Linked DNA regions of Homo sapiens: all the other regions are linked to region 7. Evidence: fine-mapped expression QTL. A gene starts in region 7. Each other region holds a variant in brackets. All regions are shown on one strand. Distances are from middle to middle. Region 1 overlaps RAB11FIP4 (RAB11 family interacting protein 4). Region 2 overlaps RAB11FIP4 (RAB11 family interacting protein 4). Region 3 overlaps RAB11FIP4 (RAB11 family interacting protein 4). Region 4 overlaps RAB11FIP4 (RAB11 family interacting protein 4). Region 5 overlaps RAB11FIP4 (RAB11 family interacting protein 4). Region 6 overlaps RAB11FIP4 (RAB11 family interacting protein 4). Region 7 holds the start of RAB11FIP4 (RAB11 family interacting protein 4).

The links. PIP is the estimated chance that this variant, and not a neighbour inherited with it, causes the effect.
Region 1: its variant is fine-mapped to the expression of RAB11FIP4 in whole blood (TOPMed, PIP above 0.99).
Region 2: its variant is fine-mapped to the expression of RAB11FIP4 in whole blood (TOPMed, PIP above 0.99).
Region 3: its variant is fine-mapped to the expression of RAB11FIP4 in whole blood (TOPMed, PIP above 0.99). The same link has a PIP of 0.9 or more in T cells, blood mononuclear cells and monocytes.
Region 4: its variant is fine-mapped to the expression of RAB11FIP4 in whole blood (TOPMed, PIP above 0.99).
Region 5: its variant is fine-mapped to the expression of RAB11FIP4 in whole blood (INTERVAL, PIP above 0.99). The same link has a PIP of 0.9 or more in CD4 T cells, lung, monocytes and neutrophils.
Region 6: its variant is fine-mapped to the expression of RAB11FIP4 in whole blood (TOPMed, PIP above 0.99).

What each region holds. Positions count from the first base shown.
Region 1 is chr17:31,510,647-31,514,710 of GRCh38, forward strand. The region is part of intron 3 of RAB11FIP4 (RAB11 family interacting protein 4); the gene reads left to right. Among named protein-coding and RNA genes, the nearest start is that of MIR4724, 22 kb to the right of the region's middle. The variant G/A (reference allele first, on the strand shown) is at 2,293.
Region 2 is chr17:31,448,064-31,452,127 of GRCh38, forward strand. All of the region lies in intron 3 of RAB11FIP4 (RAB11 family interacting protein 4), which reads left to right. Among named protein-coding and RNA genes, the nearest start is that of RAB11FIP4, 58 kb to the left of the region's middle. The variant G/A (reference allele first, on the strand shown) is at 1,978.
Region 3 is chr17:31,482,006-31,486,069 of GRCh38, forward strand. All of the region lies in intron 3 of RAB11FIP4 (RAB11 family interacting protein 4), which reads left to right. Among named protein-coding and RNA genes, the nearest start is that of MIR4724, 51 kb to the right of the region's middle. The variant T/G (reference allele first, on the strand shown) is at 1,598.
Region 4 is chr17:31,417,435-31,421,498 of GRCh38, forward strand. All of the region lies in intron 1 of RAB11FIP4 (RAB11 family interacting protein 4), which reads left to right. Among named protein-coding and RNA genes, the nearest start is that of RAB11FIP4, 28 kb to the left of the region's middle. RefSeq lists an enhancer at 1-34. The variant T/C (reference allele first, on the strand shown) is at 2,366.
Region 5 is chr17:31,492,533-31,496,596 of GRCh38, forward strand. The region is part of intron 3 of RAB11FIP4 (RAB11 family interacting protein 4); the gene reads left to right. Among named protein-coding and RNA genes, the nearest start is that of MIR4724, 40 kb to the right of the region's middle. The variant C/G (reference allele first, on the strand shown) is at 2,062.
Region 6 is chr17:31,523,756-31,527,819 of GRCh38, forward strand. RAB11FIP4 (RAB11 family interacting protein 4) reads left to right here. Exons shown (of 15, transcript NM_032932.6): 9 at 138-241; 10 at 1,335-1,475. Among named protein-coding and RNA genes, the nearest start is that of MIR4724, 9.1 kb to the right of the region's middle. RefSeq lists enhancers at 641-1,255, 1,636-1,930, 1,871-2,485. The variant C/T (reference allele first, on the strand shown) is at 2,067.
Region 7 is chr17:31,389,494-31,393,557 of GRCh38, forward strand. RAB11FIP4 (RAB11 family interacting protein 4) reads left to right here and starts at 2,182. Exons shown (of 15, transcript NM_032932.6): 1 at 2,182-2,518. The coding sequence starts at 2,360. RefSeq lists an enhancer at 1,397-1,986.

The sequences.
Region 1 (4,064 bases), 120 kb after region 7:
TGGGCAGGAGAGGACCCTGGTGGGGAGAAAGAGGCACTGATGTTTGGAGGGCAGGCTCTGGAACCTGCAGGTCTGGCTTCCTGCAGCCAAAAAAACCCAGCCGAGCTGCAGCCCAGTGAGCCACGGTGGGTAGAGGGAGAGGTCCCAGGGGCTGGATGGGAGCCAGGAGGCCAGGAGGTACCCTGGATTGTTTTCCTTCAACACAATGACGACAATAGTAGTTCAGTTTTGGGGTGTGGTGGTGTGTACCTGTAGTCCTAGCTGCTTGGGAGGCTGAGCTGGGAGGATCACTTGAGTCCTGGGAGTTTGAAGCTGCAGTGAGCTGTGATTGCGCCACTGCATTCCAAGGGTTTTTTTGTTTTTGTTGTTGTTTTTGTGTTTTTGTTTTGTTTTGTTTTGTTTTCTGAGCACTTTCTGTGTGTGCTAAGACCATAAAGTGCTTAGGATGTGTAGCAGCTCATTTAATCCTAATCACAGTTAACTCCATTTTATAGATGGGGAAACTAAGGCACTGAGCAGTTCAGTAACCCTGAAGCTGCAGAGCTCATGAATGGTGAATGGTGGAGCAGGGCTCTGGCCTGGCCGTCTACTCCAGAGCTTGTCCTTAACGCCACCCCGCGCCTCCTTTTGCCGTGTGTTCCGCGCCCTCATGACACAAGGCATTGTCCTAGTTCCCTGTGGCAGCCTGCCAGGCAGGTGGTTCCCTCCCCGTGTTTACATCAGGCCCAGAAATTAAACAGCTGATCCAGCATCAGACAGTCAGGCAGTGACCACACCAGAGTCGGCACCCAGGTCTCAGGGTCCTGTGGCTGTGCTGTTCCCAGCTCATCATACTGCAGTACAGTATGGTTCCACCACCTGCCATGTGCTCTCTACAGTGCTAACCACTGGGGTTCTGACATGTAAATCCCCATAGCTACCCACTTAGGGTCCTTGCTCTCACAGGGAAGGTGGACATGTGGTCACTTGGGGTCCATGTACTCTGTGTGTCAGCTCAGGGAAACGCAGGGTGCTGGCGTGTGCCTGTGAGGTGGCTCCCCATGGGGGAGGTGGGGAGGGAGAGGACCAGATGCTGCATCCGCTCTGAGAGTGTGGACAGTGTGGCATTGTTGGCCACTCTGAGGCTGGGACGGCCCCCACGTGTATTGATACTTGGCCTTTTCAGCAGCCCTGAATTCATCCCTTGCCAACTTCCTACAAAAGAAGGGGTGACTTGGGGCCTGCTGGCAGGCGAACACGGCTCTCAAGACTGGAGAGGGCCCCACGGCAGGCTGTGTGCCTCTAGGTTCCCACTCCCTGCTGGGGACAGGGTGGGACAGTGGGACAGCGAGGTAGGGGTGCAGGGGATGCAGACCTGCCCTGCCAGAGTGGCTGGCTGGATCCTGTTCTCCAGCTCTCTCCAGAATGCCCTGGCCTCAGGTAATTCCTCAGCTTGGCTTCTCTGAGGAGGGTGGGCGTCCCTCCTGGCTGCTCGTCTGTCCAGGACATTGCTGGCTGACCAGCCGGGGACCCATGGCTGTAGGAATAGCTCACCCTCTGTTGCCTGTAGCCCCTCGTGAGGCCAGGTCAGAATTTACGGCTCCTACCGTGACCGACTCTCCGGTGTAAATTGTCACGTGTGGCCCCCTAGAGCTGCCACTGAGGTGGAGTTGACTGGCCCCATTCTGTAGGTGAGGAGCCAGGTGCTCACAAAGGTGGTCACTTGTCCAAGGTCACATGGCTTGTAAGTGGCTGGGCCAGCAGGGCCGGAAACCCAGACTGCTAGGCCCCAGAGCTGAGCCCTCACCCAAGCCCACCCCCAGGGGCCTCCTGGGGCTTCTGGAGGAACACGCTGCTGCATCCGCTCTCTCCCTTCACCCCGGGGTCCGCTGGCAGGTGGAAGAAAGCCTGGGGTGGTGTGGCCATGTACCAGCCAAGCCTGTGGGCCTATGGTGGCTGGCCCTGTGTCCCAGGGTACAGGGAGCTGTGAGCTCAGGGCTGGCTCTGGGTCTTGAGGGACAGAGCCCTGGCAAGTCAGACTGTGCCAGAGACGATGCCCGGTGCTGCCTCCTGAGGATACCACACTGTCCCTTCCCCAAAGGCCCCCAAAAGAGCAGACACAGCCTTTCTGTGCAAACCCTGGGAACACCAGGCCAAGCTCCAGGCCTGGACATGTGTAGGGTCCCTGGGTGGTGACTGGACGGCCGTGTGTGGACTCCTTTTTCACACAGCAGGCGGGAATGGGCAGGAAACCGGGGCTCTGAGAGGCAGTCTTGGAAGCTGCCCTGGGCACAGACCTTACTTGCTGACCCC[G/A]GCCACCTAGAAACATGAGCTCTGGGGAGGCCCTGTCCCTGCCCCACCACTCCTGCCAGCCCTCCAGAGCCAGGCTTGGGTGGGCGCCTCTGTGGTGAGGATGTAGACCGTGCAGCTGGGGTGAGCGGGCAGCTCTCTGGGCATCCTGACGAGCATAGTGCGGTGAGGTGGGGTGATGGTATCCTCTCCCATGACCCCCAGTCTACTTGGAAGTATGCTCAACAGGGGGCTCCGCGTGATTCTTACCTGCAGGCAGCCTGGCCGGAGAGGAACCCACCGCCTCCAGAAGTCTGTGACCCCCAGGCCATCTGGAAACCTTATGAGGGCAATGTTTTTATTATGGCCAAGTTCTTCCTTTTCCTCTGCAACTTTATCTAAAAAACATACAAAAGGGAAATTGGCCAAGAAGAGTCCTAGTATGCTTGACTCCGAGTTCTCCCAGCCCATGAATGGTGGCTCAAGGAGAGAGAAGAGGCTGCGTTCTGGCACCTTCCAGCATCTCCCCTCCAGGCCGGCGGGAGAAGGAGCAAGGGCTTCCACCAGACCCTTCCCCAGAGGGCCGGGGAAACAAGAGCTGGGGCTGGGGACTTTGGCCCTCAGGGAGGAGCAAGGGTGACCATGGCAAATACCAAACCAAGGGGATCTTGGGACAGGCATAAACCAGTACTGTCCTGGGCTAACCAAGGCGTGCAGTAAACTGTCTTTATTATATTTGAATTTAGGGGGCAAACTACTAGAAATGGTTTTAAAGTTATAATTAAAATTTCCGATTGCCTTGGACAAACAACTGTGGGTTGAATGAAAAAGTATTAATGTTGGGAATAGCCATTTTTAAGAGAAAAAGCTGGAGAGAGTGTGTGCGCATGTGTGGCCAGGCAGGTGAGGACTTGGTGTGTCAGCCGGGTGTCAGGTCCCTGCAGGCCCTCTGTGAACTGCAAGGTTCCAGGGCAGCCACTCTCCCACTCTGAGCCTCATCTTCCCCAGGTGTCAGACGGAGCTGATGAATCCCAGATCTCTGCCCTGTCTACCCCAGGCAGCTCGCACGGGGCTGTTGTGAGGGATGGGGTGTGTGAGACAGGCGAGGAGCTTGCTGAAGGGCTGGGCAGATGTGGACTCTGCTTAGTCCAAGGCTGAAAGCCTGCCCGAGGAGGTGGTGGTCTTCTTTGGAGGGTGGGAACCTGGTGCCCCTGCTTCTGCCCTGCCTGTGCCTGAGCCAAGCCATTTGAGGCTGCTCTCTCCACCCGGTCAGGGGCTTGGGCCAGCTGCTGGGAGTATCAGGACGCTGCTGTAGATGTTGGGTGAGAGGGCCCGGTGGTTCCACCTGCATGTCATGAGCCAGGTGTTAGTGGGGCAGTGCCCGGCACACACTCGGCCTCTGTGTCCTCGTGTCAGTGGCCAGAGGCCACGTCAGACACCTGAGGAGCAAGGACGCTGATCTGCACTGGGCCCTCTGCCTGCCTCTGGGAGCTGGTGGGCCATAGCCTCCCCAGGATGTGGCTGTAGGGGGAAGGTGGGTGTTGGGGAAACAGAATCATGTCCGGACCCGGCTGTAAACTCCCACATGGCCCCAGGCAAGACCCTTCACCTACAGAAAGGGGAAAAGAGGCTCAGCTCATCGGGCTGCGGTGAAGTCCAGAAGAAACACCATTGCCAAGTTGCTGAGCTCTCACATGAGCCACAGGGCGGGCATTCCCAGCAAGGGGGAACTCTCGCTACCCGTGTGGCCAGGAAGGTGAAAAGTTTGCAGTTCTTCCTGGCCAGGTGAAAGAACA
Region 2 (4,064 bases), 59 kb after region 7:
GGCCTCCCAAAATGCTAGGATTACAGGTGTAAGCCACCGCGCCCTGCGGGAAAGACTTTTTAAATTGTTTTGCTTTAGAGGCTGCTCTTTCGAGTCCCACTTCTACTGTAGACCCATGTCCATCTTCTGCTGTGGGGCCGCTTTATGTAAGGTATTACTGTTATTGCTATTTTGTTTTCCTTTTCTTTTTTTTAAGAAACAAAGTCTTGCTCTGTTACTCAGGCTGGAGTGCAGTCACTGCAGCCTCAACCTCCCAGGCTCAAGCAATCCTCCCACCTCAGCCTCCTCAGTAGCTGGGACCACAGGCTCATACCACCACATCCAGCTAATTTTTTTTTTTTTTTTTTTGGCAGAGACCGGGTCTAGCTATGTTGCCCAGGATGGTCTCAAACTCCTGGCCTCAAGCAAGTCTCCCAGCTGGGCCTCCCAAGGCACTGGGATTACAGTCATGAGCAACCTCTCCTAGCCCTGTTTTCTTGTAATAAAGTAAATGCAGTGTTCATTTTAGTAACAAAACAGGTCTTCACTGGGAGGGAGAAATGAGGAAATTTGACCCCGCGTGGCTGAGGCCTGGAATGAGCTCCATGGGCAGGCTCCAGGAATGATGTAATTTTGCCTCCTCTCAAGGCTGGCCTCAAGGAGGCCTGATTCCAGCCCTCTTTGTCTGGGGCTGCCCTGAACCTGTAAGAATCCTTCTGACCAGATCCTCCAGACACTGCAAATTCTCACCCAGGTTGCTCAGAATCCTGGAAAGAGCTCAGGTTTGAGTCAAACGGGCTGAGTGTGGGTTCTGCTTGACCACTTTCTGTGTGTCATTTGGCAAGTCGCTTCACCTCTCTGAGCCTTTTTCATTTCTGCCTATCTAAAATCAGAGTCGTCAGCCTGATTTTCAGTGTTGTGGTGAGAATGCAATGGATTAATGTTTCTAAAGGTTCCTGAGGAGACAGGTCCCCCAGTCAGTAGTACCTATGCCTGCATTCTCTGTACCACTCAGAACCCTCAGGGGAATCATTCAGGACACAGGGGACAGAATTCCCTCCCCTTCCCATTCCCAAAGTCACCAGCCTGCCTCCACCTGCACCCACACTTTCAGCTTGCTGCTGGGATGGTGAGTGGCATGACCCTGCTCTGACACAGGCCATGCCCTCCAATCCCAGCTCCTCACCCGCACACCGCCTGAACACTGGATCCCAGCCCCTCCTGCCAACTCAAGCACTCGCCTTCACAAACAGCCCCTCACCCACAGCACCCGCACCACGCCCCTGCTGGGTCCTTTCCATTCGCTTCTGGAGCTGACATAATAATGCCCTTCCCATGGGCAGGGAAGCACCCGCTTGACCACACATCCTGGCTTTCTTTCCTTTGGTCTATTTCCTCCAAAGACTGGTCTCAACTCCCTTTCTTGCCTCCCTTTCTCTCTGTTGCCACTCCCAATGATGTCTTGGCCCCTCTGTTCTGCTGAAACACTTCTCACAGTCACCAGGGACTTCTTTTTGAGACAGGGGTCTCACTCTGTCACCCAGGCTGGAGTGCAGTGGTGCAGTCCTGACTCACTGCAGCCTCCAACACCTGGGTTCAAGCAATCCTCCCACCTCAGTCTCCCAGGTAGCTGGGACCACAGGCATCTGCCATCATCCCCAGCTATTTTTATTTTTTGTAGAGATGGGGGTCTTGTTCTGTTCCCCAGGCTGGAGTGCAGTAGTGCAGTCCTAGTTTGCTGCAGCCTCAAACTCCTGGCCTCAAGCAATCCTCCAATCTCAGACCCCCAAAGTGCTGGTATGGCAGGCATGAGCCACCTTGCCTGGCCACCAGGAACTTCTCACTGGCCAAATCCAAGCATCAGTTCTCTAGTCACATTTTTACATAGTGATGGTGTGTGGTGAATAGATCAGGGTAATTAGCATATCCACCATCTCCGGCATTTATCATTTCTTCATTTTGGGAACACTCGATAGTCTCCTAGCTACTGAAAACTCT[G/A]TATTATTGTTAATGATAGTCATCTTACAGTGATGTAGAACAATGGAACTTATCCCTCCTCTAGAACTGTAACTCTGTACTTTTAACAAACGTCTCCCTACTCTCCTTCCCCTGCCATTCTCAGCCTCTAGTGTCCTCTGCTCCATTCACATTTTACTGGAACCCTGGGCAGGGCCTGGCACAGCCAACCTCTCCCTTCTCAGATCGTCCTTTTAGCTCAAGCCTTCCTCCTACCTCTCAGGCTGCTTTTCTCCCCGCACACCACCCCCCCGCCACCGGCTTTATTATTATTATTATTATTATTATTATTATTATTATTATTGAGACAGAGTCTCCCTCTGTCACCCAGGTTGGAGTGCAGTGGCGTGATCTCAGCTCACTGCAACCTCCGCCTCCGGGGTTCAAGCGATTCTCCTGCCTCAGCCTCCCAAGTAGCTGGGATTATAGGACGGCGCCATCACACCCGGCTAATTTGCATATTTTTGGTAGAGATGGGGTTTCACCATGTTGCCCAGGCTGGTCTCGATCTCCTGGCCTCAAGTGATCTGTCCACCTCAGCCTTGCCCGCCCTCCTCCTGGGTCCCTTTAAATGGCGCTGGGTCTCAGGCCTCGTCCTCACCCCTATGCTTCCTGCCTGCCCACTCCCCAGGGGAGCTGGTTGGTCCCAGAACTCTAAAAGCACCATTACCCTGAGGGCTCCCAAGATAGTATTTTCCCCTCCGACATTGCCTTCGGCTCCAGTCTCTTCTGTCAAACCTGTGGCGCACCCTCTGCATTTCCACCATGTTCCAGGCTACACCCTTTGATCTGATCCAGCTCCGTCCCCTCAGCCCCAAGAATGTTTCCCCAGGCTCCCCATCTCAGTAAATGGCACCACCTCCCCTACCTGGTCACTCTGACCAAGGATCAAGTCATCCTTAATTTCTTTCCTCCTTCCACATCCAACCCATCATCACAGCCTAATGGTTTTACCTCCAAACTATGTCCCGAGCCATCCACTTCCCTCCACCTTGGAGGTTACACCCCAGTCCCAGCAGAGCCGCACCCTGTACCTGTGCCCCGATGGCCTGCATTCTCTCTTGTTTTTTGTGGTCCATATGACACCGGAGTGTTCTTTAAAACTTGTAACTCCTAGTGGCTGGGCATGGTGGCTCACACCTATAATCCCAGCACTTTTGGAGGCTGAGGCAGGTGGATCACCTGAGGTCAGGAGTTCGAGACCAGCTTGGCCAACATGGTGAAACCCCGTCTCTACTAAGAATACAAAAATTAGCTGGCCATGGTGGCAGGCGCCTGTAATCCCAGCTACTCAGGAGGCTGAGGCAGAAGAATCACTTAAACCCGGGAGGCGGAGGTTGCAGTGAGCCGAGATGGCGCCACTACACTCCAGCCTGGGCAACAGAGCGAGACTCCATCTCAAAAAAAAAAAAAAAAAAAAAAATTGTAAGTCCCATCCTCCTCTCCCTTGCATAAGAGCCTCCAGTGACAAAATCCAAAACCCTGACTTCCCACTGTGGCCTCGAAGGTTTCACTTTTGCCTGAATCTTTGACCTTGCCCCTCCCAGATTCCCGGTGACTCTCACTGTTCAGCCACCCTGACCTGTTTTCTGTTCCTCAAACTGCCCAAGCGAGTTCTGCACAGGGCCTTTGCCTGGCTTCCCCTTCACCTAGAACCCTTGTCCCCCAAATCTTTGCACAGCTGCCCTTGTGCCCTTCAGGTTTCAGCACAAATGTCACCTCCTCAGAGAAGCCTTCCCCCACCACCCTCTCAAGAAACTCCCTCCCCACCCTGCCCCCATCACTGCCAGAGCACCCTGCTTATTTCCTTGAGTATGCACCACTGTTAGCTGCATGTTTTTTTAATGGCTGTGTAATAGTGATACATGTTTTTGGGATACATGTGATATTTCGATAACTGCATATGTTGTGTAATGATCAAATCAGGGTAACTGGGATATCCATTACCTCAAACCTTTGTCTTTGTGTTGGGAACATTACAATTCTTCTAGCTTTTTGAAAGATACAAGAAATTATTAACTATAATTTCCCTGCTGTACTAGCAAATACTAGAACTTATTTCTTCTCTC
Region 3 (4,064 bases), 93 kb after region 7:
ACCTTGTTTCCACAGTCCAAGATCCTCTCCTGGGCTGGCACAGAGTTGCAGAATTGGAAGAGACCTAAAGATGTGCTGTCCAGCTAAAAGCTCTTCCAGGGGAGGAGTCTGAGGCCCAAAAAGTTAGGGAGAGCCCAGAACCCAGGCCTCCTGCATCTTCACTGGGTTTGGTGGGAAGAGGCAGAGGAAGGAGTGGTCAGAGAAGATGCCAGCTTAGTGCAGACCCCTAGACACATCCCCACTGGCGAGAGAGGGCTTTTGGATCCAAGAGTCATTCCCATTTTTTTTCTAAATAAAAAATTGGGGGCCAGGTGCGGTGGCTCACGCCTGTAATCCCAGCACTTTGGGAGGCCGAGGCAGGCAGATCACTTGAGGCCAGTTCAAGACTAGCCTGGCCAACATAGCAAAACCCCATCTCTACTAAAAATACAAAAAGTTAGCTAAGTGTGGTGGCATATGCCTGTAATCTCAGTTACTCAGGAGGCGGAGGCACAAGAATCACCTGAACCCAGGAGACAGAGGTTGCAGTGAGCAAAGATCGCACCACTGCACTCCAGCTTGGGCGACAGAGGGAGACTCTAAAAGAAAAAAAAAGAAAAAAAAAAGAAAAGAAAAAAAATTAGGAATGACTTTCCTTTGGGGTCAAGAGGCCTCTGCAGTCTCAGAGTCCTGCCTATTTGCTTGGTAGTCCCTTCCCTAAGCCACTGCTTAAGTCATCAAATACTGAATTTACCACCTGGGATGAAAGCTGAGATTTAAGAGTTGTAGCTGAACTTCCTGAGCGTGGAGTCAATGGACCTCTGAGAGAGAGGTGAGAGAGGACAAGTACTTGTGGTAAAGTCCTAGCCAGCTGCCAGGGGGGCTTTTCCACACATAGAGCCCCAGCTGGGCAGAAATAATGTCCTCTGGCCGGGGGCAGTGGCTCACACCCATAATCCCAGCACTTTGGGAGGCCGAGGCGGGCGGATCACGGGATCAGGAGTTCGAGGCTATCCTGACCAACATGGTGAAACCCCGTCTCTACTAAAAATACAAAAATTAGCCAGGCGTGGTGTCATGCGCCTATAGTCCCAGCTACTCAGGAGGCTGAGGCAGGAGAATCGCTTGAACCCTGGAGGCGGAGTTTGCAGTGAGCCGAGATCATGCCATTGCATTCCAGCCCGGGTGACAGAGTGAGACTGCATCTCAAAAAAAAAAAAAAAAAAAAAAAAAAAAGTAAAGAAAGAATGTCCTCTGTGTGTGCGTTGACAGAATCAAGCCCTGCTAAGATGGACCAGGTTTGACTGATGCTCACAGTCCTGATTAATGACTGGTGTCCACCTTGGAGAGCACTAGACTGAGAGTAATGCAACCTGGCTCTACTCCTGGCTCCACCACTAACTGAGTGTGCTACTTGTGAGGGGAGATGCCATTTCCCACCTCTGGGGCTCATTCCCCTGTCTGGGAAATGGTTATACTATACCAGTGATTTTAAATATTTTTAAAGCCATAGAACCCTTTATTCACATGAAGTTTCATACAGAAGACAGCATGTACAGCAGACAGAAGTGGAGCTATTTTTGTGGTTCCCCTGGAGCACATCTTCCCTTTTGCGAAG[T/G]CTCCACAGAACCCTGAGGGTTCCAACAAACTCAGTTTGAGAACAACTTGCCAGACTTTTTGTTTTAGCTCCAATACTATTTATGTCAGCTGTTGTTTGTTCACTTGGCTAATATTGGTTGGCATCAGTTGCTTGGCTAATGTTAACATTAGGTAATGTTCAGAAGGGTTCTTTTCTCAAAATAATGATCATGAAACCATATATATATATATTTAGCCAGTCGTTCCACATGGCCCCAAACATGTGCAGAATGTTGCTTCTTTACACCATCCAATGTTGAGCTAACTCTTGCATGGTGGCAGCGAAAGAAAATAGACACAGAGAGGCCAGGCATGGTGGCTCATGCCTGTAATCCCAGCATTTTGGGAAGCTGAGGTGGGGGGATTGCTTGAGCCCAGGAGTTTGAGGCTACAGTGAGCTATGATTGTGCCACGGCACTTCAGCCTAGGCAACAGAGCAAGATCTTATCTTTTTTTTTTTTTTTTTTTGAGACAGTCTTCCTCTGTCACCTAGGCTGGAGTGCAGTGGCACAATCTTGGCTCACTGCAACCTCCACCTCTCAGGTTCAAGTGATTCTCCTGCCTCAGCCTCCAGAGTGTCTGGGATTACAAGCGCTCGCCACTACACCCAGCTAATTTTTGTATTTTTAGCAGAGACAGGGTTTCGTCACGTTGGCCAGGCTGGTCTCGAATTCCTGACCTCAGGTGATCTGCCCGCCTCGGCCTCCCAAAGTGCTGGGATTACAGGAGTGAGCCACTGCGCCGGGCCTGACATTGTCTCTTTAAAAAAAAAAAGGAACCTCACAGGTAATGCTAAGAGACCAGGGTACCTAACTCAAGACCTTCCTTCCCCACATCCTCATAGGTGGTGCTATGCTCAGAAGGCAGGATTATATTTCCTATTAACTCACTCTTAGCCCCCGTTTGAACCAAGGACACTGAATCCTAGCCTGTGTTAGAGCCCTCAGATCCCATATTCATCCTGTGTCTAATCTCACCCATCAGATACAGTCACCATCCCCACCCCACCCCCCACTGGACTATCATTGCTTCTCTGAACCCTGCTGGAAAGTGTTAGCCCTTCCCTCAAAAGTCAGGGTCCTAAATTTTCCCTCAGGCTGCCTCTAATCCTCACCTCTGTTCCCCTCAGCCTCTTGCCATAATGATCATTAGTAATAGCTACTGTTTATTGGTTACCTGCTCTGTGCCAGGCTCTGTTCTATGTATTTTACTGGTCCTGATTATTTTGATCCTCACAATAGTTCTAAAATACATACTATTATTATCTCCAATTTAAAGATGAGGAAATTGAGACACTGGGACTTAAACTTGCCTACGTTCATTTAGCAACAAGGTGGTAAAGCCAAGATATGGCCCTTGGCCCCGGCACCCATGCACAGAACCAGTGCGTCAGACTGCAGCTCACTCATGCTGCTGGTAGTGACTAGGAACTGCCATTTATTGAGCACCTGCAGCATCTTAGGCATTGCACTAGACACTTTATCATTTCATTGAAACTTCACAACTGCAAGAGGAAATGTCTTATTTCCATTTTCTAGAGGTAGAGACTGAGGCTCCAAAACATTGACTTCCCTTGATAAGTGGAACCGGGCAGGCTTCAAACCCAGGAGTGTTCAATGCATCTGTGGCCTTTCTCTGTCACTCTGCTTTTAAGGACAAGTACCTGCAGACATTCCCCACTCCACTACCTTTGAGAAAAATAAAGAAGGACCTACTGATACCACCCGTTCCATAGAGCTCTTGAGAAATGTCGCTCAGGCTGCCCATGGTGGGGACAGGGAGGGGGCTTGACAGGCCTGACTTTCTCCATTGACCTTCTCTGGGAGAGAGTCACGACCAGAGAAGGGATGATCACCCTTGGTTTCTGCTTTTCTTTCTTGGTTCTGGACGATCCTGTCATGTGACCTGCTTTGAGCCTAATAATCCTTAGGGGCAACATCGGACTTGGAAGGGAAGAAGGGAAACCAAGATAGAACCCCTGGACTCAGCCACATCCTAAAACCTTTTGGGACACTGCTGAGCTTAAGGTCTCAGGGTGGAGATGGGAAGGCAGATAGAGTGGGCCCAGGGTGCATGGGCTCAATCGCATACCACACCTTTGAGGAGTGCCTAAAATTAAGTGTAGTCACTGTGCTAGGGTGTACAACATCCTGTGAGGTACCATTCCCATCTTACAGATGAAGACATTGAGTCTTAGAGAAGTAACAGAACTTGTCCCAAGACATCTGGGAAATAAGACTCAATTCAAACCCAAGTCTGTTTGATTTCAAAGCCAGTGGTATGATACACCACATAGGTACTCTTATTTTTTTTTTAAATAGAGACAGGGTCAGCCAGGCGCAGTGGCTCACGCCTGTAATCCTAGCACTTTGGGAGGCCAAGGCGGGCAGATCATGAGGTTAGGAGTTCAAGACCAGCCTGGCCAATATGGTGAAACCCCGTCTCTA
Region 4 (4,064 bases), 28 kb after region 7:
TTCCCCTCTTTTCCCATCTGTCTTCTATTGTGGCTGCTAAAACAGCATAAAAATGCTGGGGAGTTTCAACTTCACCCTACTCCAAGCCAAGCCCTGAAACCCCTTTTGTGGATATAGACGATGTCAGGTGCCCAGCCAAGCCCAGGTTAGTGCCTGGGGTAGCAGGAATTGCCACTCCGATGCCCATGGGGGCCAGGAAGGAATGCAGCCTAGGTGGGGCTGCGGTGGGGAACTACTTGAGATTTGGGGGTTCCCATAGACAGCTGGGGAGCAGAATACATTCCCTTTCTAAAGAGTGTGCTTGAATTCAGCTGTCGCTCATTGTTGCTGTGGGGGAATATGGGACCTGTATTGCCAGATCTGATTTTTCAAGAAAAGCCAGGGGCTGGGCATGGGGGCTATGCCTGTAATCCCAACACTTTGGGAAGTCAAGGCAGGAGGATCACTTGAGGCCAGGAGTTCAAGACCAACCTGGGCAACATAATGAGACCCCATCTCTACAAAAAATTAGCCAGGTGTAGTGGTGTATGCCTGTACTCCCAGCTACTTGGGAGGCTGAGTTGGGAGGATCCCTTCAACCTGGGAGGTCGAGGCTGCTGTGAGCTATGATCATGCCACTGCACTCCAGCCTGGGTGACAGTGAGACCCTGTCTATAACAAAAATAAAAATAGGCTAGGCGTAGTGGCTCATGCCTGTAATCCCAGCACTTTGGGAGGACAAGGCGGGCGGATCACCTGAGGTCAGGAGTTCGAGACCAGCCTGGCCAACATGGTGAAACCTCGTCTCTACTAAAAATACAAAAATTAGCTGGGTGTGGTGGCAGGCACCTGTAATCCCAGCTACTCAGGAGGCTGAGGCAGCAAAATCGCTTGAACCCGGGAGGCGGAGGTTGCAGTGAGCCGAGATCGCACCATTGCATTCCAGCCTGGGAGACAAGAGTGAGACTTCGTCTCAAAAAAATAAAATAAAATAAATAAAAATAAAAATTTAAAGTCAGATATCCAACTTTGTATGTGCAGTTCCCTTGATTTTTTTTTTTTTTTTTTGAGACAGGGTCTCACTGTGTCACTCAGGCTGGAGTGCAGTGGCACAATCACAGTTCACTGCAGCCTTGACTTCCCGGGCTCAGGTGATTCTCCCGCCTCAGCCTCCGAAGTAGCTGGGACTACAGGCGTGCACCACCACACCTGGCTAATTTTGTTCATTTTTTGCAGAGACAGGGTTTTGCCATGTTGCCCAGGCTGGTCTGGAACTCCTGAGCTCAAGCGATCCTCCTGCCTTGACCCACTCCCAAAGTGCTGGGGTTACAGCTGTGAGCTACCGTGCCCAGCCAGTTCCCTTGATTTTTAAAGAAAAATTTTAAAAAATTGTTTTTACTTTACATACAGTAAAATTCGCTTTTTGGGGGTGGGGGAAGAAGTGTCACTATTTACATAGACTCCTGTGACTCCCACTGCCATCAGGGACAGAACGGCTCATCCCCCAAATTCTCTCCGGCTGCTCCTTTGTCTTCAGTCCCTCCTCCTCGCTCTTGGCACCCACTGATCTGGCTTTGTCACTATGGTTTTGCCTTTTGCACGTAAATGGAATCATACAGTTTGTAACCTTTGGGAGTGGTTTCTTTCCCGTAGCATAATCATTTGTTCTTTTTGGTTAGGGAACACTTGCTTATCCATTCACTTGTTGAGAGACACTGGGGATGTTTCTAGGTTTGGGTGATTATGTGTAATGCTGCTGTGGACATTTTTGTGCAGTTTTGTGTGGGTGTGTGTGAATGTAAGTTTTCATTTCTCTAAGATAAGGAAGGATAAGGAAGTTCCCTTATATTTCTACTTTGTTGAGAGTTTTTTTGTTTTTTTTTTTTGGTATCATGAATGGATGTTAAATTTTGCCACTTGATTTCTCTGCATCTTTTGATAGGTTTTTCTTCTTTGGTCATGTTTAGATTACATCCATTAGTTTTCAAATGTTGGGCCAGCTTTGCTGAATAAACCCCATTCGGCTGCTTGTCTTGTTATATTTTTCATATATATCTCCTGGATTCGATTTGCTAATATTTTGCAGAGGCTCATTGCATCTGTGTTCATGAGGGATATTGGTTTGTAGTTTTCTTTTTTCTTTTTTTTTTTTTTTGAGACTGAGTCTCACTCTGTCGCCCAGGCTAGAGTGCAGTGGGGCGATCTCGGCTCATTGCAAGCTCCGCCTCCCGGGTTCACGCCATTCTCCTGCCTCAGCCTCCCGAGTAGCTGGGACTACAGGCGCCCACCACCATGCCCGGCTAATTTTTTGTATTTTTAGTAGAGACGGGGTTTCACTGTGTTAGCCAGGATGGTCTCGATCTCCTGATCTCATGATCCGCCCACC[T/C]CAGCCTCCCAAAGTGCTGGGATTACAGGCATGAGCCACTGCGCCCAGCAGGTTTGTAGTTTTCTTATATTGCTTTTGTTTGGTTTGGGTAACAGGGTATTATTGCTGGCCCCATAAAACGAGTTGGGAAGTGGCTCTTCTATTCTCTGGAAGAGGTAGTGTAGAATTTATGTATATTTTCCTTAAATACTTAGTGAAATTATCTGGTCCTGAGGTTTTCCTTTTTGGAAGGATATAAATTGGGAAATTAATTTCTTTAATCACTCAAGGACTGTTCAGATTATCTATTTCTTCTTGCATGAGTTTTGGTAGTTTGTGTTTTTCAAAGAATTGGTCCATTAGCTCATCTAAGTTGTAGAAATTATGTGTGTAGAAGTGTTTCTAGTGTTCCCTTATTAGCCTTTTAAAGGATGTAAGACTGTAATGATATCTCTGTTTTCTTTTTTTTCGAGACAAGGTCACACTCTGTCACCCAGGCTAGAGTGCAGTGGTGTAATCAAGGCTCACTGCAGCCTTGACCTCCCTGGCTCAAGCGATCCTCCCACCTCACCCAACCCCGGTAGCTGGGACCAGAGGCATGTGCCACCATGCTTGGCTAATTTTTTTAATCTTTTGTAGAGATGGGGTCTTGCTATGTTGCCCAGGCTGATCTTGAATGCCTGGTCTCAAGCGATCCTCCCACCTTGGCCTCCCAAAGTGCTGGGATGACAGGTGTGAGCCACTGTGCTCAGCCTCATTTTTTATATTGGTGATTTGTATTCTCTCTCTCTTTCTCTCTGTCATTCTGGTTAGAGATGCATCAGTTTTGTTAATCTTTTCAAAAAAAAAACCAGATTTGGGTTTTGTTGATTTTTCTCTACCAGTCTCATTTTTAATTTTATTAATTTCTGCTCTTATCTTTATTATTTCTTTCCTCCCTTTTGCTTTGGGCTTGAATTTTATGGTATTGTATTTTCATTTTCATTTAGTTTAAATTATTTTTATTTTCTCTTGAGACTTTGGGGCTGGGTGCGGTGGCTCATGCCTGTAATCTCAGCACTTTGGGAGGCCGAAGGGGGTGGATCACCTGAGGTCGAGAGTTCAAGCCCAGCCTGACCCATATGAAGAAACCCCATCTCTACTAAAAAATACAAAATTAGCCAGGCATGGTGGTGCATGCCTGTAATCCCAGCTACTCGGGAGGTTGAGGCAGGAGAATTGCTTGAACCCGGGAGGCAGAGGTTGCAGTGAGCCGAGATCACGCCATTGCACTCCAGCCTAGGCAACAAGAGCAAAACTCCATCTCAAACAAACAAACAAACAAAAAGATACTTCATCTTTGACTCATGAATTATTTAGACACATACTGCCTAATTCCCAAGTATTTGAGGATTTTTCAGATGCCTTTCTGTTTTTGATTTTTTTGCTTGTTTTAAAATTTCTTTTCTTTTCTTTTTTTTTGAGACAGTCTCGCTCTGTTGCCCAGGCTGAAGTGCAGTGTGTGATCTCAGCTCACCGAAATCTCCATCTCCCAGGTTCAAGTAATTCTCGTGCTTCAGCCTCTCAAGTAGCTGGGATTATAGGCACAGGACACCATGCCCAGCTAATTTTTGTATTGTTAGTAGAGATGGGGTTTCACCATGTTGCCCAGGCTGGTCTTGAACTCCTGACCTCAAGTGATCCACCTGCCTCAGCCTCCAAAAGCTCTGGGATTACAAAC
Region 5 (4,064 bases), 100 kb after region 7:
CACGGTTCCAAGCACCATGATCTGGAGCCCACACTGGGTGGCAGGCTGCAGAGAAGGTGCCCCCAGAAGCCTGGACTGCACCCTTATCTGTTTTCATTTGGAGCTATTTTCTCATTATCTCATGCCAAGTGTCTGACTACACATGGCAGTCCTTCCCCAAGTGTTTGCAGCTTCATCATAATACTGTTAATTGAATGGAATTTGTCATTGGCCAGCTTCTGTGGACCCCATTCAAGGCTGAGTGGATGCTGGGGGCGCCCAGCTGGCCTTGCTCAGAGGGGTCCCGAGCGTCTTGGTGCTTCAGGAGCTGAGCCCCCCTCAAGAGCATTGATGACAAGAGCTCAGATTCTCAGAACCCCCCTGAGCACCCAGACAACCTTGGTGGTTACTTCTTCACTTTTTCGCATGACCTGGAAAGGAGATGAGACGGGGAGGAGAACATAGGCAACCAGAAGGACGTGCAGCCTACAAGGGTCGTATGAAGGTCAGAGGGGTGGCTGTGATGGCCCAGAGCTGTGGGGTCTGAGTGACCTCCAGCCCAGAACCGCCCAGCAGGCCAGTGCTAGTCATGCCAGCACTTCCAAACCCACTTCTTGACTGACCTTAAGAAATGGGAAGTTTTCCAACTGTTGGTCACATTTTTAATTGATCTAACCTGCTTCATCTTCCCAGACAAGTGGGTTCTTTCCCAACAATGTAAACATTAATTCAGATGAAAACAAAGCTCTGTAGAAGTTATTAATATCTGTGGCTCTGCTCATGGGAGCCTTTCTCTTTTGAGGTACCAGAAAGAGGAAGGCCTAAACAGAACTGGAGTGTGGGAGAGTGGGCGGGCTCTCTCTCTTTAGTCATCTGTGGTCACCCCCCACCCCCCTGCGCTGTGCAAGCCTGATACCATGGAAAGGGAACCCACATTTCAAATAGCTGCTGCTGCTCCGGTGAACTTGGGGTAAGGGAGCTGAGGGGTGTCTACCCTCTGCACCAGACTCAAGTCTCCCTCCTAGAATAGGAGCGAGAATAGCAGCAAGTCCCTGCCCCCTGCTCCCTCGTTTTCCTGGAAGAAATGCCTACCTAAGACACAGACACCTGCATCCCACGCTTTGTCACCCAATGCCTGTTTCCTTAAGGAGAAAAAATGGGCGCCAGAAAACTTCTAGGTCTAGATCCTGGCTCTGTTGCTCGCTAGTTGTGGAACTTTGGACAGGCGACCTCACCCTTCTGATTTCACTTTCCCTGGCCTCACTCTTCACTCCCTCTGCCTGTGGGCAGGCAGCAGCATGGTTCTGTGGGGTCCTAAGGACCCCAGGGAGTCACTCCCACATTTGGGCAGCAGCTTTGGGTTTAGTCTGTCCAGTTTAGGGCCCCAGATCGTATATGTGTGTGTGCACACACGTGTGTGTTTGCGTGTCAGGCAGCATTCAGATGGGGCATCCTGTTCATCCACCCCCCTGCTTTGGGGTGGCTGAGGGTTGGGGTGCCCAACAGGTAGAATGGGGTTGATAATAGCACCTGCCTCGCAGGGTGATGGTGAAAATAAAATGAGCCATGGTGATTTAAGATGCCCAGTCTAGGTTCTGGCCTTTACTTAGTTGACACTCGTGGACGGTTAGATGGTTAGAGAGGCAGGCCAGTTTAGTACCAAAATGCCTTCAGAGTCAGGCTGTCTCTGGGTTCAGATCCTGGCTCTGCCCCTTGCTATTGGTGGAATCTTAGACAAGTTATTTAATTTCTCTGTGCCTCAGCTTCCCCACCTGTAAAACGAGGATGAGGCTAGTACCTCCCTCACAGGGTTCGTGGTAAGAGGATGAGGCTAGTACCTCCCTCACAGGGTTCGTGGTAAGGCTCAAATATGTAAATGTATGAAAAGCACTTAAAACTGTGCTTTGGGGTGAGCTGTTATTCTTAGTTCCTGCAGGCTTCAGCTGGTTTGATTGTTGTGACTAATAACCTTCGCACCTAACAGAATGTCTTGCCGGGGAGTGTCATGGCCCAAACAGGAAGGTGGCAGCGGAAAAACTCCATTACTCAAGGGCCTTTGCAAGAGAAGCAAAACTCTACTTC[C/G]TCAGCTTCTGTGGGTTTTTAAATCTTTTTTTTCAATTTTAATTTTAATTTTTTTAAAAAAAAAGTAGAAATGAGGTGTTACTATGTTACCCAGGCTGATCTCGAATTCCTGCCCTCAGGTGATCCTCCCACCGCGGCCCCCCAAAGTGCTGGGATTACAGGCATGAGCCTCTGCACCCAGCCAGCTTCTGTGTTTTTAACAAACCTTGCTCGGGCTCTGCAGATACAGATTCTGGGTCTGGGGTGAAGTGACTAGCATTTGTGTGGCAGTCTGTGAATGAGATGTCAAGCAGCTTCCGAGGTAACAGACTTCTCCCCAGGTTCAGTGAGGGAGACTGTACCTAGCCTGTCCTTCCAGAGGCTGCTCACACTGCCAGGCTGTGGCTGGCCTGCCAAGGGGAGGATGGCCCTCCACACCTCGGCCCACCTGCCCTTCACCTCCAGCCAGGGCCTGCCTGTCCATCCACCTGTGCCTAGCTGGAAAAGCTGGCTTGGAGCAGTGCTGCCCATCTGCCACTGCCAGCCCCCAGCATCTGCCTTATTAAAATGCTGAGGCTCTGGCTGGCCACAAGCCCCAGGAGATTTGGAGAAAAGCCAGACAAAAAGGTGCAGGCTGTGCCACCGCCCAGCCACACTGGGTGACTGCCCTTGGTAGTTAACCACAGAGTCATCCAGCTTGGCTGCCCAGAGGTCTATAGCTCCACTCAGGCGAAGCTGGCTAGCCTGGCCTAGCCTGGCTGGTTAGGTGGGCAGGACAGCCTCCACTTGACTGATTTTTTTTTTTTTTTTTTTTTTTTTTGAGACAGGGTTTCGCATTTCTGCCCAGGCTAGAGTGCAGCGATACAATCTTGGCTCACTGTAGCCTCGACCTCCTGGGCTCAAGTGATCCTCCCACCTCAGCTGCCTGAGTAGCTGGGTGCACCACCACTCCCGGCTATTTATTCATTTGGTAGAGATGAGGTCTCACTATGTCACCCATGCTGGTCTCAAACTTCTAGGCGCAAGCAATCCTTCCACCTTGGCCTCCCAAAGTGCTGGAATTACAGGCATGAGCCACCATGCTTGACTCGTCTGACTGATGTTAGGCAACCTTGAATTGATGGTCTCCTGGTGAAATGAGGGTTCTTGTTGACAAGGCAGGTCTGGCCAACACATTTTTGTATGATTATCTGCACGATTGCATCAGTTATTAGCAAAGAAGGATTTTATAGCAGCAGGTGTGTGCTCATGTGCTTGTGTGGAGTTGTTGACTGCCCTTCACTGCACACACACAGTCTGCGGAACTGTGACTGAATCCCTGTTCCCTACTCACACTTACATGGTATTTTCTGGGATTCTAAGGCACATTCTTTTTTTCCTTTCCTTTTTTTCCATTTAACATCTTAAATTGGAATGTGTCGCACATTTGCGGATTATTATAATTTGACAGCGCCTTTTTCTTGGCATACTTGAAATAACGGTGCATTGTAAAATCAGAGGTGTCTCAGATTTAATGAAATAGAAACTAGGTAACCTCTGGGGAACTTATATAATTTGTCCAGTTCCTCCAAGGATGCAGGTGGAGCCACCTTGTAGTGGTGGCAGATTATATGAGGGGACCCTGATGTGGTTCAAGGGGACAACCTTGGATTGGGCTTAGATTCCAGCTTTATGGCTCGCCAGCTGTGTGGCCTTGGCAAAGTAGAGCGACCTCTCTGAGCCTCGGGATTTTCCTCCCACCACATATGAATCGTGGCTCCACAGTTGTCATGGCTGTGTGCAAGGCAACATTCCCTGTTTCTCTTGCTGGGTATCATCTAAGGTCTGCCCCGTTCCATCTGGGTTAAGAGGGAAAATGAGGGCTGGGAGTGGGTCACTGGCCTTCCCAAGGGAGCAGAGGGAAACTGGTGTTCCAAGGGCTTCTTGACTCAGTTTATAATCCTTGGACATTACTCTTCTTCCCTCGTCCTTCTCCCCCTTTGCCTGAGTTTTCATTTTCACATGTGTTTCCTTTTAGCAATTTT
Region 6 (4,064 bases), 130 kb after region 7:
CACTCCCCCACCCCACACATGACCGTTCTCAGATACACAGTGGTTTGGAGGTCCTGCTCATGAACCTCATGGCGTCGAGGTTCTCGGTTCTGTGGCCTCAGAGGTCTTCTCCACCCCACCCCGGCCCCCTGCTGCAGGTAAGCTTCCTGGAAAAGAAGGTGACAGAGCTGGAGAATGACAGCCTGACCAATGGGGACCTGAAGAGCAAGCTGAAGCAAGAGAACACACAGCTGGTGCACAGGTCAAGCAGGCAGCGGCGCTGGGGGCTCGGCCGTGACGCTGGGGAACAAAGGGGGGTCCATCTTGCTAAGACCTCCAGGAGGAGGCAGCCTCATGCCTTTGCAGCTCTGAGGGTCTGTGACGCATCAGCCTCTTGTCACATGGCCCTGCCCACATGTGGTGCCCAGGACAGGACCTTAGGGACAGGGAGACAGGTTGGAGCTTGACCTTGGCTCTAGGCCCAATGGATTCTACCCCCTGAGGTCTGAAGCCACAGGGCTGGTCCAAGATGGGAGTGGGGATCCACTGTGTCTCACTCATACAGTGACAGGAGCCTGACGTCCCTTCCTAGGGACAAGCTCTGCAGGGGACAGGCCAGTGTGAGCTGGGCGGTGGGAAGGGTCCAGCACTGCTGCTGATGGAGGTCCCCTGAGCCTGCCGTTCCTGATGCTGTCTGCAGTGGTGGATTCAGGGTTTAGTTGTCCTCACCAGATGGCATGACCCTTGGGGGACATACCCTGGCCAGGGGTCCGGTCCTCCAACTTGTCACAGGGCCCAAAGATGGGCCCTTTTGTACACCCCAGAAGGTCAGCCTGGTGGAGGGGCTGTTGCCAGTGAGACGTATCCCAGACCGAAATACCAACCAGGCTGTCACTGGGGTGCTCACATCTACGTGCCCCTGGCCCTGTCCCAGGTCTGGGGCAGACTTCAGGCCACCAGCCAGGATGTGCCTATTTTGGGAGTCAAGGTGCCCAATAAGCTGAATTATTAATCAGAGGGGTGGCCGGGAAGGAACAGCACAAAAAGAAGAGGTGAGGCCTGAGGTGGTTCCGGCCAGGTGTGGCTGCAGGGACTGGTGGGGGCGGTCCCTCCCTGTGCTGCCCTGAGCGCCCCACCTTCTGACTGCCAGGCCTGCCCCTCCATGGCATGTGTGACCGACACCCCCTCTATATGTGCGGTGTCCCCGTTCATCTCTCTGAAAGCTACTGGCCCACACGCCCTCAGTGGACATGCCAGTGACTCAGGGTCTCGGGGCCCAGGGTCCCCCGTGCCACAGCCTGGGTTGGGGTGAAATGGTGCAGGCCCCAAGAGCTTGCCCATTGCGCTGTCCTCAGGGTGCATGAGCTGGAGGAGATGGTGAAGGATCAGGAGACCACGGCCGAGCAGGCTCTGGAGGAGGAGGCGCGGCGCCACCGCGAGGCCTACGGCAAGCTGGAGAGGGAGAAGGCTACCGAGGTGGAGCTGCTCAATGCCAGGTGGGCCCCTCCACCGAGCCCCCTCCCTCAGAGGGACCCCCTGTCCTGGGGCAGCCCTGTGGGATAGGCGCTATCCCCATTTTATAGATGGGAATGTGAGGCTGAGGGGCAGCCTCTTGAGACTTTCCAGTAGTAACAGTTCCACTTTAATACCACGAGAAACACAGAGGCATGCTCTTCAGGAAGTTCGCTAAGGAATGTTCCCAGGAGCGTGGCTCACATTTGGTAATGCAAACCACACAAATGTCTGTCAGAGAAAAGGGCCTGGGCTGGGTCTCACATCCAGGCCTGGAGCGCCCCCTGCTGTCAGGTTCTCCCCTGACCCCTGGTGGACTGAGCCAGAGCCCCAGGGCCAAGGTAAATGGAAAACCCGGCTCCTGTGCCTTGCGTGTACCTGTGGCTTCGTCATTGGAACGTGACGCAGGCGGGACAAGGAGCAGCCCCGGGCCAGGGATCTGAGTTGGTCTCCCATTAGCTCCATGGCCTTGGACGTACTGGGTCACCTCCCTGTGTGCCCCACAGAGCGGCTGTGTGGGTGGGTGAGCCGATGTAAGTCCAGACCCTGCCCACGGGTGAGGGCTATGATGATGC[C/T]TCTGTGATGAAGCCCCTTTGCGGCCCTTGACCGAGGCCGAGGAGGCCGCCTGGGCTTCTGGCAGAGAGGACAGCTGCCCTGGCACTCCTCAGGCCCCCTGAGGCCCCAGTCTCCATGCTGAGGCTTCCCAGAGTTGCCGAGCCCCACCTGGCGGCTGGTGGGCTGCTGAGCAAATGACTGGGAGTTGGGCTCTCAGGCAGGTACCTCCCTGCCCCCGTGTCCCTGCCCCTGTGCAGTTTGGTGAGGAGACTTCCCAACTCCCCGGTGTCTGAGACCTGCTTTGCTAAGTTACCCACCAGGGGTTCATTTTACATTTTGACTCTATTCTAGAAGCTGCTGTTTTGCATCTGTTTCTGGAGGCTGGTGCCTAGTTAAGGGTGACTGCTCTCGCTCAGCCCGCCTCGGCAGCTGGCCCAAGAGAGGTGGCTGGGACACGGGAGGTGGTAAAAGACAGTGTGAACCTGGGCCACAGGACAAAGTGCAGAAAGCCAGCCCTCGGGAACTGTCTCCTAACGTGTGCCCGTCACACAGCTCCGGGGGCGCCATTCGTGTAAAATATCCGAGTGGTGTTCCCAGAGTCCTGCCGTATGCTTGGTTCCCTACCACTTCCACCCGCTTGGGGCCACCTGCTGGTGGTGGGGCTGAATTCCTCTCTGGAGCCCAGAGGGCAGTGGAGGCCCAGAAGCCATCCTTCCAGGAAAGAGGACATGATGGGGAGGTGGTGGGTTGAGAACGGGATGCTCTGCAGGAGTCACTGCCAGAAGTGACCCTGTTCAGTTCTGCTGCCACCGACGGCCCAACTCACCTGCACCTATTCTCAGACCATTTAAAACTGACCTGAGGCCGGGCACAGTGGCTCACGCCTATAATCCCAGCACTTTCGGAGGCCGAGGCAGGTGGATCACGAGGTCAGGAGATGGAGACCATCCTGGCCAACATGGTGAAACCCCATCTCTACTAAAAATACAAAAATTAGCCAGGCGTGGTGGTGCGCGCCTGTAGTCCCAGCTGCTCGGGAGGCTGAGGCAGGAGAATCGCTTGAACCCGGGAGGCAGAGGTTGCAGTGAGCTGAGGTCACGCCACTGAGACTCCGTCTCAAAACAGACAAACAAACAAAAAACTGACCTGAACACCCAGGCTCTGTCTTCTTGTGGAATCCCTTTAGGATTCCCTTTGTGGAATTCCTGTGTGAACGCTAACACAGAGGATTATTACTGTCAGAGCCCATGCCTGTGGTCATCAGAGGGAGGTGCAGTGAGCGCTCAGAGAAGAGCCCTGGATGAGATGCTGTTGGCGGAGAATGAAAAGCCAATATGATCATTGCCTTCAAGTTACAGAGTCTAACAGGAGGGCCCAGTCACAGAAGCCACAAGAAGACTGTTTCTCCATCTAGCAGAAAGACATCCCCGTGTTGTCTGAGGATCTGAAGGATGCATACAAGAAGAATCTGCGTTCCTACTCTCTAATGAATGTTTCCACTTATTGGAAAAATAAAGGCCACGTGTGGTGGCTCACTCTTGTAATCCCAACACTTTGGGAGGCCAAGGTGGGCGGATCACATGAGGCCAGGAGTTTTTGAGACCAGCCTGGCCAACATGGCAAAACCCGTCTCTACTAAAAATACACAAATTAGCTAGGCGTGGTGGTGCATGCCTCTAATCCCAGCTATTCAGGAGGCTGAGGCACGAGAATTGCTGAAGGAGTTAGAGGTTGCAGAGCTGAGATTGTGCCACCTCACTCCAGCCTGGGCAACAGAGCAGGACTCTGTCTCAAAAAAAAAAGAAAGAAAATAAGAATGATAATTTACTATTTTGCTTACAAATAGTCCTTACTATTTTGCTTTGGCTGATAGGAAGCTCACGGCTAAATTGTCTTTGACATAATAATCATATTCTTTCTCTCAGTTGGTTTCTGGTATCTTTCCTCTGGGAGGAAGCAGAGAATCACTGCAGACTGGCAGGCGCTTATCAGATAGTCTACATTCCAGGTTTCTGAGA
Region 7 (4,064 bases):
CCCTGTCCCCAGTTAGGGGGCATTCAATGCCAGGCTGAGCGCGGAGAGCCATTTCTGCAGCCCCCACCAGGGGGCAGCCCCAGCTCCTGGCCATCTCCTTTCTGTGCTGAGCCCCTTGGGTGAGAGAAAATGGCACGAGCTGACCTTGGACGAACTAATATCGGGGTCCCAGGGGCAGGCAGCAGCCCCCAGCTTCCACTCCCTACCTCCTTGCCAGGGGGCTGGCTGGATCTCCAGCAGCCAGTCTCTCCCAGCCAGCTGCTTGTCCTTATTCTCCACTTCCACCTCCATTTTGCAGGGTAGGTCGGGGGAAAGCAGCATTGCTTAGATTCGCTCTCATCTTCAGTTGCCCTAAAAGGAAGGTACTATTATCCTCACGGTACAGGCGAGGAAACCGGCTAAAATATGCTAGTATCCTGCTGAGCGGCATCCAGCTAGCAGAGACGCTCCTACTCAGCCGAATACCCCTACTCCACTCCCACGGCCTCCCCTTTCCCGCTTTCTCACATTTCGGACTCCTCAATCCTCAGAACCACAGGTCTCTCTTCCCAAGAGGTGTTGCCTTTCGTGGCTCTCAGACGAACTGAAGGGTCAAAGGAGAGTAGCTAAAAGCCAGGTTCATCCCAGGAGCCGGGGCTGGAAAGAAGAGGTCCCCGCCCACTGTCAGAAGGCAAATGGCAGTCCCTGCGCAGGATATATTCAGGGTTGAGCAGGAAGACCACAGAGGTACAAACCGAGGCCCAGCTAGGGGAGGCCATGCAGTTCACCCCGTACTCCCTGTCTGCGCCACTACGTTGCTCCCGGCTCCTCACATAATGGGCGGGCCCATCCCCTCTGGGTGGGGCTTCCTCTGGGCCCACTCTTGCCTGGAGATCAGGGACTTGAAGGTAATTAAGACATATCTTGCCCTGGAGGGCTTCCCAGCATGGTAGGGGAAATGGGCATCCCACTAGAGAATTAAGAATTAACTGGGCACCTGGAAGAAGGGCTTAGAACTCAGAATAGAAGATAAGATGGCGTGCCATCAGAGAAGCCTTCCCGGAGGAGGAAACCTCTGTGCTGAGCATGACAGCATAGGTGGGAGTAGACTCAGCCAAGGCCTTTTTTTGGGTTGGGGCCAGTCGTTGCCACAAAGACCTGATGTGCCGAGCAAGAAGGTGGAGAGAAGAGCCCGGCCGGGTCCTGCAGGGCCCCGAGGCTGGGCTGGGAAGTTAGCACAAGCTGGGGTGGAGGCTCCGCTGAGCACTAATGGGAGGAGGCCAGGGTCCTGACCTAGAGCCTGCGGCCAGCGGGACAGAGATTCTGTCCTGGATTCTCTGAGCTTGGGGCATGCGGGCTGCCAGGGAGGTGTGATGGTGGGAACCCGGCGAAAGGGAGGAAGCCTCTTCCAGGCGTGGAGCAGCCTTGGGCCCTGAACAGGCAGGCCTCTGGAAGCGCCTCGCTTTTCCTCCCTCCGGCCTCATCCTGGTTTTCTCCTCATCTCCCCGTCGCAGGGTCCCGGGTCCAGGCTGGGGTTCAGTTGCCTGCTCCTCCTCTCTGTGCCCTCCCCCGCCCGATGGCCCCACAAGTGCTGTCTTGCAGGAGAGCGCCGGGAGACCGCAGGGCGGAGGTGAAGAACGGAGTCCAGAGCCCTCCAGAGATGGCAGCGAATCCCGGCCCTGCCTCTTGCCAGCTGTGTGGCCTAGAGTGAGTCCGACCTCTCTGGGCCTCAGCTTCCTCCGGGATGAATGCAGTCACGGAACGCGCCAATGCAGGAGGCCCCCAGGACATCCTGAGCGCTCGGGAGACGCCAGGCGCGGCAGCGGGCACGGATAGCGGAAAGGGGCGCGACCCCGCGGAATCCTCCGGCAGGGCAGGGCCTTTGGGTGGCTCCGGGTGTCCAGAGGAAGGGGTGGGCTCGGGGACGCGGAGGGAAACTGGGGACGCGGAGGGAAACTGAGGTCGCGGAGGACGCGGCCGTTGGCAGCTCGCTGCGCCTGCCGGCCCCGCGTGGGCCGCCCCACTCGGGAGGACGCGGGCTCCTTTTGTCTGCAGCGTCCCCGCCGCCGCCGCCCCCGCCGCCTCCCCCTCTCCCTCCCATTTTCGCCGCGGCCCCCGCCCCTCCCCTCCCCGCCCCCTATTGCCCCTCCTCCTTCCCCTCCCCACTCTTCTCCTTCCCTCCCCTCCCCTCCCTTCCCCTCCGGAGCGGCTGGGGCTGCGGCGCCGCTGCTGACACGGATCGGCCGCGGCCGCCACCGGGCGGAGGCTGCGCGGCGCAGACCCAGACGGGCGGCCCCGGAGGGCGCGCGGCGATGGCGGCGGCGGGCAGGCGGCGGGCGCGGCGGGCGAGGGGTCCGGGCTGAGCTGCGGGCCGGCCCGGATGGCGGGCGGCGCGGGCTGGTCGGGCGCCCCCGCGGCTCTGCTGCGCTCCGTGCGCCGCCTGCGCGAGGTGTTCGAGGTGTGCGGCCGCGACCCCGACGGCTTCCTGCGCGTGGAGCGCGTCGCGGCGCTCGGACTGCGCTTCGGCCAGGGCGAGGAGGTAAGCTGGCCCGACCCCAGTCCCGGCCCGGGGACCCCAGCCCAGCCCCGCCGCCCCTCCCCCAGCTCCCCCGCCGGGTCACCCGCGTGGCCCGAGGCGGTGGCCTCCCTCCCAATCCCCTCCCTCCGCCGGAGCCCAGGACCTCGGCCCCCCCCGGGTATCCCTGGCCCAGCCGGGCCCTCGCTTTCCGCCCCCCGGCGCCCGTGCCCCGAGCGTCACGCGTCACGCCTAGGGTGGCTTCTGCGCCCACCTTCCTTCCTCGGCCATGCAGGTCCTTCTGAGCGGTCTGCACATCCACCCTTGTCTGGGGGAGAGAGCTGCCAGAATCCGGCCCTAGGCTCCCCACCCCACCCGGCGCTGCGGAGACCAAGATGCAAGGGTCTGTGTACGTCCTGCTGGGCCGGGCCAGGGGGTGAAAGGGACCGGTAGGGGTGCTCTGCAGCCTTGGCTCCTCGGCTGCACACACCCTGCCCAGACACGGAAGGAGGTGTCTGCTGGGGCCACCGTGTACTCCCGGGCCAGTGTCGGGTGACCTCTCATTCAGGCTCTGCTGGGCAGCCAGGCTGGCAGCTGGCTGTGTTGGTTGCAGCAGGCCAGGCAAAGCCAGGCTCGGGGAGTGGTGGCTGAGCAGAGGGCTTTCATGTGGCGGGGCCGCATCTATTTGGGGAAAGCAGGACTTACGTAGATTGTTAACAGGGCTGGAAGCGGAGGGTCGGTGCCGCCAGTAGGGTGGACGGAGTCATATCACTAAACGCACACTACACCAGTGTCCTCTGGTGCCACCGGCATGGGGACTGGGGACTGTGTCTCAAGGGGAGGACAAGACACCCACCTGGCTGAAATGGTCAGGGGTTTCCCCTGGAGCCAAAAGCCCTGAGAAGTGGGTTTCCAAGGCCATCTAAGGCCTCAGGCCCTGCATGGGGGGCCTGGGGCCATGGGCCTCAAATGGGCACTGGCTGGCATTGTGTTCCCAGAACAGGTCGGACCAGGCATTTCAGAACATGGGAGAAGCTGGGTGATGGCCAGGTTGGGCCCGTGCCTCTGCGTCACCAGAGAGTGGGAGGCGATTGAGAATCATCTCTCCACCCGCACCTGGGCATGGGCCGGGACTTGTGAGTCGCTGAGAGCTGTGGGCAGAAGAGAGTGAGGCAGCTTCAGGGCTTGAGAACTCAGGTACCCACCACAGGAAAGACCACTGCAGTGCCTGTGAGAGCCCAGACTGCCCTCTGCGGGGCTTTGCTGAGGGACACTGCCTGCTGCCACCATGACCCTTCTTCCCCAAAGGCCAGCCAAGCCCTTCCGTTTTTCCAGTGGCTCCCATCTGGGGCAGGCTGAGCAGACTCCTGGCATGGGGATAGTCGCGCTCCTTCCTCTCAGAACACAGACTGCAGGTCGGGTAAAGAAGCTACCAGCTCTGGCTGAAACCTGGAGTCCCCGAACTCAGAGCCTCAGTAGTGGGAAGGGCCTCCCAACAACCTCTGGCAGGGGCCACCGGCCTCAGCCACGTGCCCAGCAAGCCTCACCCACTTCTCCCCCAGCTGGACAG